Linked DNA regions of Homo sapiens: region 2 is linked to region 1. Evidence: fine-mapped expression QTL. A gene starts in region 1. The other region holds a variant in brackets. All regions are shown on one strand. Distances are between the middles of the regions.

Region 1 (5,376 bases):
ATTGAGTGGAGATGAGTTGGAGGGGCTGACTACATGTCTGTTCTACCCCAGAACCCCCAGGCCTGGTCCAGGACCTGCATGTATCTGATTCCTCCAACTCCAGCATTTCCCTGGCCTGGCGGGAGCCTGCAGAGGGAGACCCACCCTCTGGCTACATCCTTGAGATGAGGGCTGAAGACACAAAGGAGTGGTCCAAGTGCACAAAGATCCCCATCTCAGGCACCTGCTACACAGTGGGAGGACTCATCGAGAGGCAGAAATACTTCTTCCGAATCCGGGCTGTGAATGAGGCTGGGGTTGGGGAGCCTGTGGAGCTAGACAAGGGGGTCCGTGCCATGCCACCACCAGGTGAGGACACAGAGAGGGCTGGGGATTCATGCCCAACATTGTACCTCCAAACCTTCTCCTCTGGGGCCTCATCCCACAGGAAAATTGGATGATGCTAGGATCATGAAAAAGTCATCCATAGTTGTTGTGCCTGGACAAAGTTAGGGGTAACTTCAGGGGCACCCCTACTAAATCAATCATTGTGTGCCAAATAGCATCTACTGTGTGTCAAGGTGTAACCACCCAATGGGTTCTTCTTGCGCATTGTACACGCAAAACCAGTTCACTGAGACCACAGCATTGCAACAAAGAGTTTAATGGACACAAGGCCAGCCATGCTGTATGGGAGACAGAGTTATTACCCAAATCAATTCCCCGAAAATTCAAAGTCCAGGGAGCCTGCTTCTGACTGGGGCCTCAGGACTTGTGGGGTGGAGGGAGAGCAGGTCCAGGTGGAGCCATCAGTCGTCAGAAATGCAAAAACCTGAAAAGACATCTCAACCACCAATCTTAGGCTCTACAATAGTGATGTTATTTGCAGGAGCAGCTGGGGAGTTGCAAATCTTGTGATCTCTGGAATAATGGCTGGTAATCTTTTATGTCTACACCTTAGCAGAATTCAGGCTCCTCACATCCTCCTAACCTGGTGGCCTTTCATTAGCTTCGCAAAGGTGATTTAGTTTGGGGGAAGACTGTTATCATCTAAGCTATAAACTAAATGTCTCTCCCAACATTAGCTTGGTCTGAAACCAGGAATGATTAAGGGCAGTTTGGAGGGTAAAGGCAAGATGGGGGTTGGTTAGATCAGATCTCGTTCACTGTCATAATTTTCTCGCTGTTATAATTGTTGCAATGGCAATTTCAAAAGGAGGTGTTAGGGTTATAGAAACAAGACACAAGGACTTGCCTTCCAGGGTCTTGCGTACTAGTAGAAGGAGACAGATGAGAAAACAAATAAATGCTTCACAGGGTTGCAGGGCAGCTAGATGTCTGTATGGCCTGTAGTGGGGGCATAAAGGAGGAGAGGTTGGGAAGGCTTTGATGAGGAGGCTTAAAGCAGAGTCTTCTTGAAAGACAGATCCATGCCTCCACCTCTGTCTCCTCCATCTCAGCTGCACCCAAGTTTGACCTCAGTGCCCGGCTGAAGAGTCACATGGTGGTTCGCGCTGGGACAGCCCTCTGCATCCATGCAGCCTTCTCTGTGAGTTGTCCCTGACCCTGACCTCCATACACTGTCCACATAACCAAGATGGCTATTGTAGCCATCACAGTCTCTGACTCTGACTCTGACTCTGCCCCTCACCAGACCCCTAGTGCGACAGCCTGGCAGGAAACTCCTCGACAATGGAGGAAGGCCTGCCCCCAAATATCATCTGTGTGACCAGTTGTGCCATCTCCTGTCACTACTCAGGGCTCACCACCACCTGACGTGATCTGGCAGAAAGATGGCGTTCCCACCAAGGGCCGAGAGACAATTACCAAGAGCAAAAACCACTCCCAGTTCCTCATTAATAGCACCAAGCGCTCTGACTCAGGGGTGTACCGAATCTTGCTTCAGAATGAGTTTGGAGAAGCACGCTATGACATCCATGTGCGCGTGGCAGGTATGGAGAGAAGGCAGAGGCCTCCAAGACCCATCCCTGTACACTCTCCAAAGCACAGCTCCCCAGTGCCGCTTGAGTTCCTACCACAGGAAAGTCATGCCTTAGGGCCATGAAGATTTCTTTGACACCACAGAGCAAGACTTTATCATACAGAGTATGGTCGGCAGAGAGAGTAGAAATGGGTGGAGGGGCAGGAGGGACAAATGGAGATGAATCCATTAAAAATTGGGGTGACTGCTTAAAGAGAGCTGGAAGCTTTAAAATAAAGCTCTAAACCCCCAAGGAAGGAATGGATTCATTTTTACTGAACAGTAACTACATGCCAGTCTCTTTACCCACTATTTCTACGAAATAGTCATTGTCAGCTCTATTTTGCAATTGAGGAAAGAAGTCTCAGATAAGTAACTTACCCCAGGTCACGAGGCTAGTAAATGGCAGAGCAGACTTCAGAAATAGTTTTCCGACTCCAAGACACCAGCTGCCTGAGACTTGCCCCATCTTATCTTCCATCGGACTTGGCAGATGGCTGGGGTGGGGACATAATACTTCAGGTGCCCCAAGGTCGCTGACAGATCTTCCAACTCTTCCAGATTTCCCTCGGCCCCCCACAAACCTACGGTTGTTTGAGGAAGTCCCCAACACAGTGACTCTGACCTGGAACCACAGCCCAGATGTGCAGGAGGACGGTGAGGCTCACTACATCATCATGAAGCGGGATGCAAGCACAGCCACCTGGTACACGGCAGCCGAGCGTGTCTTCAGCAACAAGTACACAGTGACGGGGCTGCTCCCAGGCAGGAAGTACTACTTCAGAGTGGTGGCTCGGAATGAAATCGGTGACAGTGAGCCACTTGACTCCAGGGACACCTGGCTCATCAATAAGGACCAGAGTGAGTCTGGGACTTGCAGTTAGGGTTAAGTCTGGGTGCCCTGATGGTGGGGATGACATAAGGGTCCCAAAGGGTACCCAAGAGGCAAGATAAAATCTGAAAACCATTGAGATAGAACGGTTAATATCTGGGACGCTGCGGAGAGAAGGAAATATTGGCTTTCTTCGGGGTACTTAGGGGTGAGACTAAAGTGGAGGTGGGGAGGTACCTTTGGGGGCAGAGAGGACGGTGGAGGGGCTGCGGAGGGACATAGAGCGCAAACGCGTTCTGCTCTGAGGGGAGGGTCTAACGGGGCTGAGAACAGGGGAGGGCTCTAGGGAGCCGGGAGGATGTCTGGGATCCCTGGAGGCTAGGGGTTAAGGGTGGGGGCCGCGTCGGGAAACTCGAACTGAGGAGCTAAAGGGATAAGAGGGGAGACTGTGGTCGCTGATATGACGTAGGGGAAGCTTGGAGGCGGAGTTAAAGGCTGGGAATAACCGGGTCCAGGAAGCTGGCGCTGGAATGACATCTCGGCCCCAGGGGTGTGGGAAAGCGTGGTTTGGGTGGCAGAACCCTGGAGTGGCTGGGGACGGGGCTGGGGGGTCGGGGGAGGCCTGGGGGCGGGTGGGGAGCCCTTAAGAACCAGTGTAACATTGGGCCCCCAGAGTTGGTGGCGCTGGGAATGTGGCCTAGGTCCTCGGGGTTCCGTGTAAGCTGAACTGTAAGACGTGGGTGGTGGGTGGGGGCCTTGGGGCGCCCTCACGGCCTGCCCCGCCCCGCCCGCGCAGTCCAGGACCTGAGCGCCAAGCTCAAGCCCTACGAGAAGAAGGACTGGCGCCACGCGCCGCGCTTCGTGACGCCCCTCAAGCCACACACGGTGCTCCGCGGCCAGGACTGCACCATGACCTGCGCCTTCCTTGGGAACCCGCGGCCCACAGTGACCCTCTACAAGGGCGACGTCAACATCACGGCCAACTCCAAGTTCTGGTACAACTCCACCAGCGGCGTGTGCACCCTCGTCATCCCCACCTGCACGCTCAAGGACAGCGGCGATTACAGCGTGCTGGTGGAGAACGAGCTGGGCAAGGACCGCAGCAGCTGCACGCTCACCGTCTATGGTGAGGGCGCCGCGGGGTCCGGCCTCGAGGAGGGGGAGAGGCGCAAAAGGCTGGTCTTGTGGGCCATTGGTCAACTATTTGGCTGGCACCGTTTTTTAATCTGACTGCCAACAGGTGGTGCAAACATTCTTAATTGGCCACAGTTCTTACCACTCTCCCATCCTTTCGATGTCATTTGTTATATGCCTGGCCCCTGCAGACATGAGAGTTCTCAATCCCTAGATAAGATGTGGTTTGCAACTCTTGGTGAGCCTAGACCTGCCTTCAGAAAAAAGATACTGGTGATCAGGACTCAACCAGACTCACCAATCACGATCTCTCTGGCACGGTTCTGGAAATAACCTATATGTTTACAAAATTTTGCGGGTGATTCTGATGTGCAATAAAAATTAAAACTGGTCTAGGATAAGGACCGGTGGGGGGCACAAACAAGGGAAGGAGCGAAGGGAACCCTCCCTTTTGTACATGCATGCCATGTTTCTACTCATGTGTGCACACATAGGGGGAAGCATTTTATTCCTTCCCAGTCTACTGTCTTCATAGCCACACAGCTAGCAGCATGAACTCTAAATGCAAAGCTGGCCTGCCTTGCTTTCTGTTGCTTAAATTTCCCCCAGCTTTCCTCTCATGGTAAAATCCCAAACCAAGAAGGTTTCCCCCTCCCCCACCTCTCATCTCACCTTCTGCTACTCCTGAACCTTCCATGACACTCCATTGCTGTGGTCTCCATGGTTACAGACCTTTTTTATCCAGTTATAGATACCTTTCTTTGGGGAAAGGACCTTGTCCTGTTGCTCTGTCTCTCGAGTGCTTAGCTAAGTGTCTGGCACTGAGACAATATCTCCAGAGAGGCTGCTGAGCTGTGTAAAAGAACTAGGCCAGGGAAGGCACTGTGGGTGCTATCCAGCTTTCATTCCACAGCTAAAGAGATCCCTGATAACTCAAATCTGCTTGTAAGCACAGCAAATGGGCCCAGGGCCCTGGCTCTGCCACTGACCAGCCATGTGACCTTAGTAAGCTACCTCATTGAGCCTGTTTTCTCATCTTCTTTATAGGACTATGAGGCTTAAATGAGACAGTACACAACTGCCTGGCACAATGTCTGGCAAATATTAAGTGCTAGATAAATGGCAGCTCTTGCCCCTTCACACTCTGCCAACCCAAGATTAAGGGTCCCAGGGTCCAGCTCCTGGTTTCCTGCATAGGAAGTCCAGCAGTTTGGAATTTCCCTGGTCGCCAGCATCATTAATATAACGAATACTTCCTTTGCTCTTTCAGACAAAGATGATAAGTCAGTTGTAGCATCCATCACCGAGAGTCTGCAGAAGAAATCAAAGCACCTCATGTGAGCTCCAGCCAAGCCCAGGCATCAGGAGGCTGTTATGATGTGGAGTTTCTTGGCCTGTCCTCTGCATGGCCCAGTGTAGGAAGCCCAGTTTGCTCTCTGGTGTTTGTTAA
Region 2 (5,376 bases), 39 kb after region 1:
ACCATAATTAATACCCTGTCTCGGGCACAATGCTAAGTGCTTCATATGTAGTATCTTATGTAATTTTGATGTCAACCCTGTGAAACAGAATTGTCATCTCCTATTACATATAAGCAACATCCCTGGTCACTGTATCATTTTATCTTATTTTATTGTTTTTGTTTGTTTTTTGTTTTGAGACAGGGTCTCACTCTGTTGCCCAGGCAGGAATGCAGTGACACCATCACGGCTCACTGCAGCTTCCACCTCTCGGGCTGAGGTGATACCTCCTGCCTCAGCCTCCCAAGTAGCTGGGACCACAGGTGCACACCACCACACCAGCTAATTTTTTGTTTATAGTAGAGACAAGGTCTCACTATGTTTCCCAGGCTGGTCTCAAACTCCTGGGCTCAAGAGATCCTCCTGCCTTGGTTGGGGTTACAGGCGTGAGCCACCATACCCAACCATCTTATCTTATTGTCTTTTTAGTATCTACTACCATTTCCATATTACACCATTTATTAGTTTTCTTGTTTATTGTGTCTCCCCAACAACCCTGCATGCCTGAAAGTTCTAAGAGATAAAGAGACTTTGTCTTGTTCACCACAAAATTGCAGTGCCTAGTAGTAAATTCTCAATAAATATTTTTGAATACATGTATCATCAAATGAATGAAAAGGAGAGGTGAGGCCAGATGTGATGGCTCACGCCTGTTACCCCAGAACTTTGGGAGGCCGAGGTGGGTGGATCACCTGAGGTTAGGAGTTTGAGACCAGCCTGGACAACATGGCAAAACCCCGTCTCTACAAAAAATACAAAAAATTAGCCGGGCGTGGTGGCAGGCGCCTGTAGTCCCAGCTACTTGGGAGGCTGAGGCAGGAGAATGGCGTGAACCCGGGAGGCGGAGCTTGCAGTGAGCGGAGATTGCGCCACTGCACCCAGCCTGGGCGACAGAGCGAGACTCCATATCAAAATAAAATAAAATAAAATAAAATGAGAGGTGAACTTGCTAGGACAAGGTCACACAGCAAGTAAGTGACAGAACCAGATTTGACATCAGGTCTAGATGGTTCTAAAAATCAATATTTACTTCTGCTTCCCAGAGCAGCCACAGCTGGGGGGAAAAAGCTGTAGAGGGCAGGGAGAGGGAGTGGACAACATTCAGCTCCCTAAGCCAGCGCTTCCCCTCTCTCCTCCCATTGGTCAAGTGACATCACAGCTGGCGGAGTCGACATTGATATCCAAGGTGCTTTATGGACTAGCAACCCAGCTCCAGGTTGCACTTACAACCTCTTATGTCTCCACATCTAAGGGAGAGTAAATCTGTCTGATAAATCCCTGGGAGTTACGTCATTGATTAAAGGCTATGTGCATCTCTTCTTTTGATATTAATCCAAAGAGGATGCACCAGTCTCTACTCACATAGTATTTTCTCACACTTTCACAACAGAGTACTAGTAATCTTTTTTGATATTTTAATTTTTGCCAGTCTGAGAGATGCAGCTGGAGACTGCAATATTCTAAACCTCCCCAAATTGCTCCCGGGGATAACATCTTAGGTTACAGTAAAACCTAAGATCAGTGCTTGAGATAGTTTGCAGATCCTGTACTCGATGGATCAGCTGACACCACCCAGATCAATAAACTGGCTCATCTGGTCTTGTGGCCCCCACCCAGGAACTGACTCAGCGCAAGAGGACAGCTTCAGCTCCCTATGATTTCATCTCCAACCTGACCAATTAGCATTCCCCACTTCCTGAGACTCTACCCACCAAATTAACCTTAAAAACTCCAGTCCCTGAATTTCTGTGACCAGTCTCTGCTCTACATAGTATTTTCTCACACTTCCACAACACAGTATTAGTAATCTTTTTCATATTTAAATTTTTGCCAATCTGAGAGATGGAAAAGAACTCATTTTAGGTTGACTAATTCAATTATGAGTAGGACTATGCATTTTTTTCTTTTTCTTTTTTTTCTTTGTTTCTTTTTTTCTGAGGCAGAGTTTCACTTTTGTCCTCCAGGCTGGAGAGCAATGGCACGATCTTGGCCCACTGAAACCTCCGCGTCCCGGGTTCAAGTGATTCCCCTGCCTCAGGCTCTTGAGTAGCTGGGATTACATGTGCCCACCACCACGCCCAGCTAATTTTTTGTATTTTTAGTAGAGATGGGGTTTCACCGTGTTGGCCACGCTGGTCTCGAACTCCTGACCTCAGGTGATCCGCCTGCCGGAGCCTCCCAACGTGCTGGGATTACAGGCGTGAGCCACTGCGCCCAGCCCGTCTTTTCTTGTTTATTAGCCATGTATAAGCTGTTTGTCTGTGAGCTGCCTGTTCCTGTCTTTTGCTAATTTGATTTGAGATTCTGCATGAGGACCTAGAGCGGCCCCAAAGTCCCACACCCGTCCGCTCTTCTCTCCCCACTATCAGCCCCTCCCCCTGCTCTGCTCGGTTCTCTACTGCTGCCTAGT[G/A]ACAGGGGTTAGTCTTACCACAGGCCTCACAGACGCAACTACTGCCTGCCTCTCCCTGAGGATAAATTTCCTGCTGGAATCATGCCCTTGATTCCTAGGTGGGATTGCCAGGTGTAGTTAATAAGAATGCAGGACCTCCCGTTAAGTTTTTAGGATTGCCAGGTTTAGTTAATAAGAATGCAGGATCTCCCGTTAAGTTTGAATTTCAAACAAGCAAGTACCTTTTTAGTTGTGACATACTTTTATCCAAATTTAACTGAGTGTCCTGTAATATATCTGGCAACCCTATTCCAAGGCTTCCCATTAAATTTCAGTCCCCACCCTCCACCATTCCTCACTGGCTCTCATTCTCAGCAAGTTCCATTCTACTACATTCCTCCCCAGTGGTTTCCTAAATGGCACGGTTAGGCGGTACATGAATCACCGTTGTTAAGACCTTGTCTCTGGCTCAATCCTGGGTTTGAATCCTAGCTCCAAACACTTTGCTAATTTCTTTTAAAACTGTATCTAGTCAGAACTTAATCATTTTATTGCATATGTTTTTACAGTTGCCTTCTATTTAAGTCGAGTGATAGTGAATTCCCAGATTTCTTTTTAAAACAGATTTAAGGCCAGGCACGGTGGCTCACGCCTGTAATCCCAACACTTTGGGAGGCCAAGGCGGGTGGATCACGAGGTCAGGAGTTCAAGACCAGCCTGGCCAAGATGGTGAAACCCCATCTCTACTAAAAATACAAAAATTAACTGGGTGCAGTGGCAGGCTGAGGCAGGAGAATCGCTTGAACCCAGGAGGCAGAGTTTGCAGTGAGCCAAGATCGCACCACTGCACTCTAGTCTGGGCGACAGAGCAAGACTCCGTCTCAAAAAAAAAAAAAATGAAAAAAAAATTTAATCTTTAAAAACCTGAAGAAAAGGGATTGAATAGTACAGATAATAAGTGGAAATGGCAAAAGTCATAAGGCAGCTTCTGAAATGATTAAAGTTTGGGAAATACTGTCCTGTTCCCATCCTGGGAGTCAACACAGATCAGCACAGTGCTGACTGAAATAATGTGCTCCTTTTGTAGCAGGACAAGCTGTAGACAAAACCCCTCAGACACTGAGTTAAAGAAGGAAGGGCTTTATTCGGCCAGGAGATCGGCAAGACACATATCCAAAAAACCAAGCTCCCGAGTGAGCAATTCCTGTCCCTTTTAAGGGCTCACAACTCTAAGGGGGTCCACATGAGAGGGTCGTGATCGATTGAGCAGGTGGGGGTACGTGACTGGGGGCTGCATGCACTGGTAATCAGAACGGAACAGAACAGGACAGGGATTTTCACAATGCTTTTCCATACAATGTCTGCAATCTATAGATAACATAACTGGTTAGGTCAGGGGTCAATCTTTAACCAGGCCCAGGGCACGGTGCCAGGCTGTCTGCCTGTGGATTTCATTTCTGCCTTTTACTTCTTCTAGTTTTTACTTCTTCTTTCTTTGGAGGCAGAAATTGGGCATAAGACAATATGAGGGATGGTCTCCTCCCTTACTTTATGTGGCCCTGGTTTCAGGAGGAACCTTCATAACTCAGAGGGTGCCCAGGGGAGGAGGGAAAACTCAAGCATATATAACTGTTTCATTTGGGGGCTGTGGCAGTGTAACGACTCAACAGGTTTTCCTTGCCTGCTGCCTAGACAAAGCTGATGCATCAAGACAGGGGAACTGTGGCCAGGCGTGGTGGCTCATGCCTGTAATCCCAGCACTTTGGGAGGCTGAGGTTGGTAAATCACAAGGTCAGGAGTTCGAGACCAGCCTGGCCAACATGCTGAAACCCCGTCTCTACAAAAAATACAAAAAATTAGCCAGGCGTGGTGGCAGGCTCCTGTAATCCCAGCTACTCAGAAGGCTGAGGCAGAGAATTGCTTGAACTCAGGAGGCAGAGCTTGCAGTGAGCCAAGATCTCACCTCTACACTCCAGCCTGGGTGACAGAGCGAGACTCCCTTTACTTTACTTTCTTAATAATTTACTTAATTCCTTTACTTTCTTAATAAACTTGCTTTCACCCCGTCTCAAAAAAAAAAAAAAAAAAGAAAAGACAGGGGAATTAGAATACAGAAGGAGTTTAATTCATGCAGAACTGGCTGTATAGGAGACCAGAATTTTATTATTGCTCAAATTAATCTCCCCAAAATTTCAGCAATCTGAATTTTTTTTTCTAATACTTTATTAATTCAAAAGCACTTTACGAGAAAATATAAGTATGGCTTCCAATAGGAATGTTATACCTGGACTTGGTACCAAGCTCAGCTCACAGATTTGAGTTTGCAAGGAAAAACAGGCTTTCAAGTTAAACAACAATTTGTAACCAAAACTTTAATCCCAAGGATTCTCACAAAACATATTACAAATGACAGCATGAAAAAAAAATCTTGCACAGTAACTCAAAGTTCGGCTCTACAATGTATCCTTAAACTGGCAGGACATTTTTGAAATCTCAAATTTGCACATAAAAAATGTCACGAACAGCCATGTATTCATATACAGCAATCAAATAAGTAACTTATGACCTAAAGCAAAGGCAAACTTTCTTGAAACTTAACAGATTCTATACCAACTAGGCAACCTCTGCCCAGGATGAAAGTGAGTTGGATTTTTCAAAAACCTGTAATTTAATAGTGCAGCGTTTATTTTTACCTGATGGCTTGTGTTTCACAGCAGTTTTTAAAGACTGCTTGTTCAACTATAGCTGCATCCTATATCCCAGCTACGGAAAAAAAGTAAATCTTAGTTCAATTTTTGCCAGTTGCTTCTGTATTAAAAAAAAAAAATCACACTTCTGCTGGGCAGGTTTAGAGGTTTATTGTCAGTCTATGCGTAACTAAAGTTCAAAGCAAATTCAATCTTGCTTAAGGGAACATTGTAAAGTAACAATTCTTGGTATTACATGCC

The links. PIP is the estimated chance that this variant, and not a neighbour inherited with it, causes the effect. A credible set is the group of variants that fine-mapping cannot tell apart.
Region 2: its variant is the best candidate, but not a certain one, in a credible set for the expression of IGSF22-AS1 in unexposed skin (GTEx, PIP 0.52).

What each region holds. Positions count from the first base shown.
Region 1 is chr11:18,704,359-18,709,734 of GRCh38, reverse strand. It overlaps IGSF22-AS1 (IGSF22 antisense RNA 1), which reads right to left and starts at 3,254. Exons shown (of 3, transcript NR_186353.1): 1 at 2,586-3,254; 2 at 2,342-2,457. It overlaps TMEM86A (transmembrane protein 86A), which reads right to left. Exons shown (of 3, transcript NM_153347.3): 3 at 4,950-5,376. IGSF22 (immunoglobulin superfamily member 22) reads left to right here. Exons shown (of 23, transcript NM_173588.4): 18 at 52-348; 19 at 1,440-1,528; 20 at 1,739-1,931; 21 at 2,522-2,821; 22 at 3,589-3,918; 23 at 5,197-5,376. The coding sequence ends at 5,267.
Region 2 is chr11:18,665,746-18,671,121 of GRCh38, reverse strand. It overlaps the pseudogene SRSF3P1. Among named protein-coding and RNA genes, the nearest start is that of TMEM86A, 30 kb to the left of the region's middle. RefSeq lists an enhancer at 2,165-2,666 and a silencer at 3,894-4,094. The variant G/A (reference allele first, on the strand shown) is at 2,450.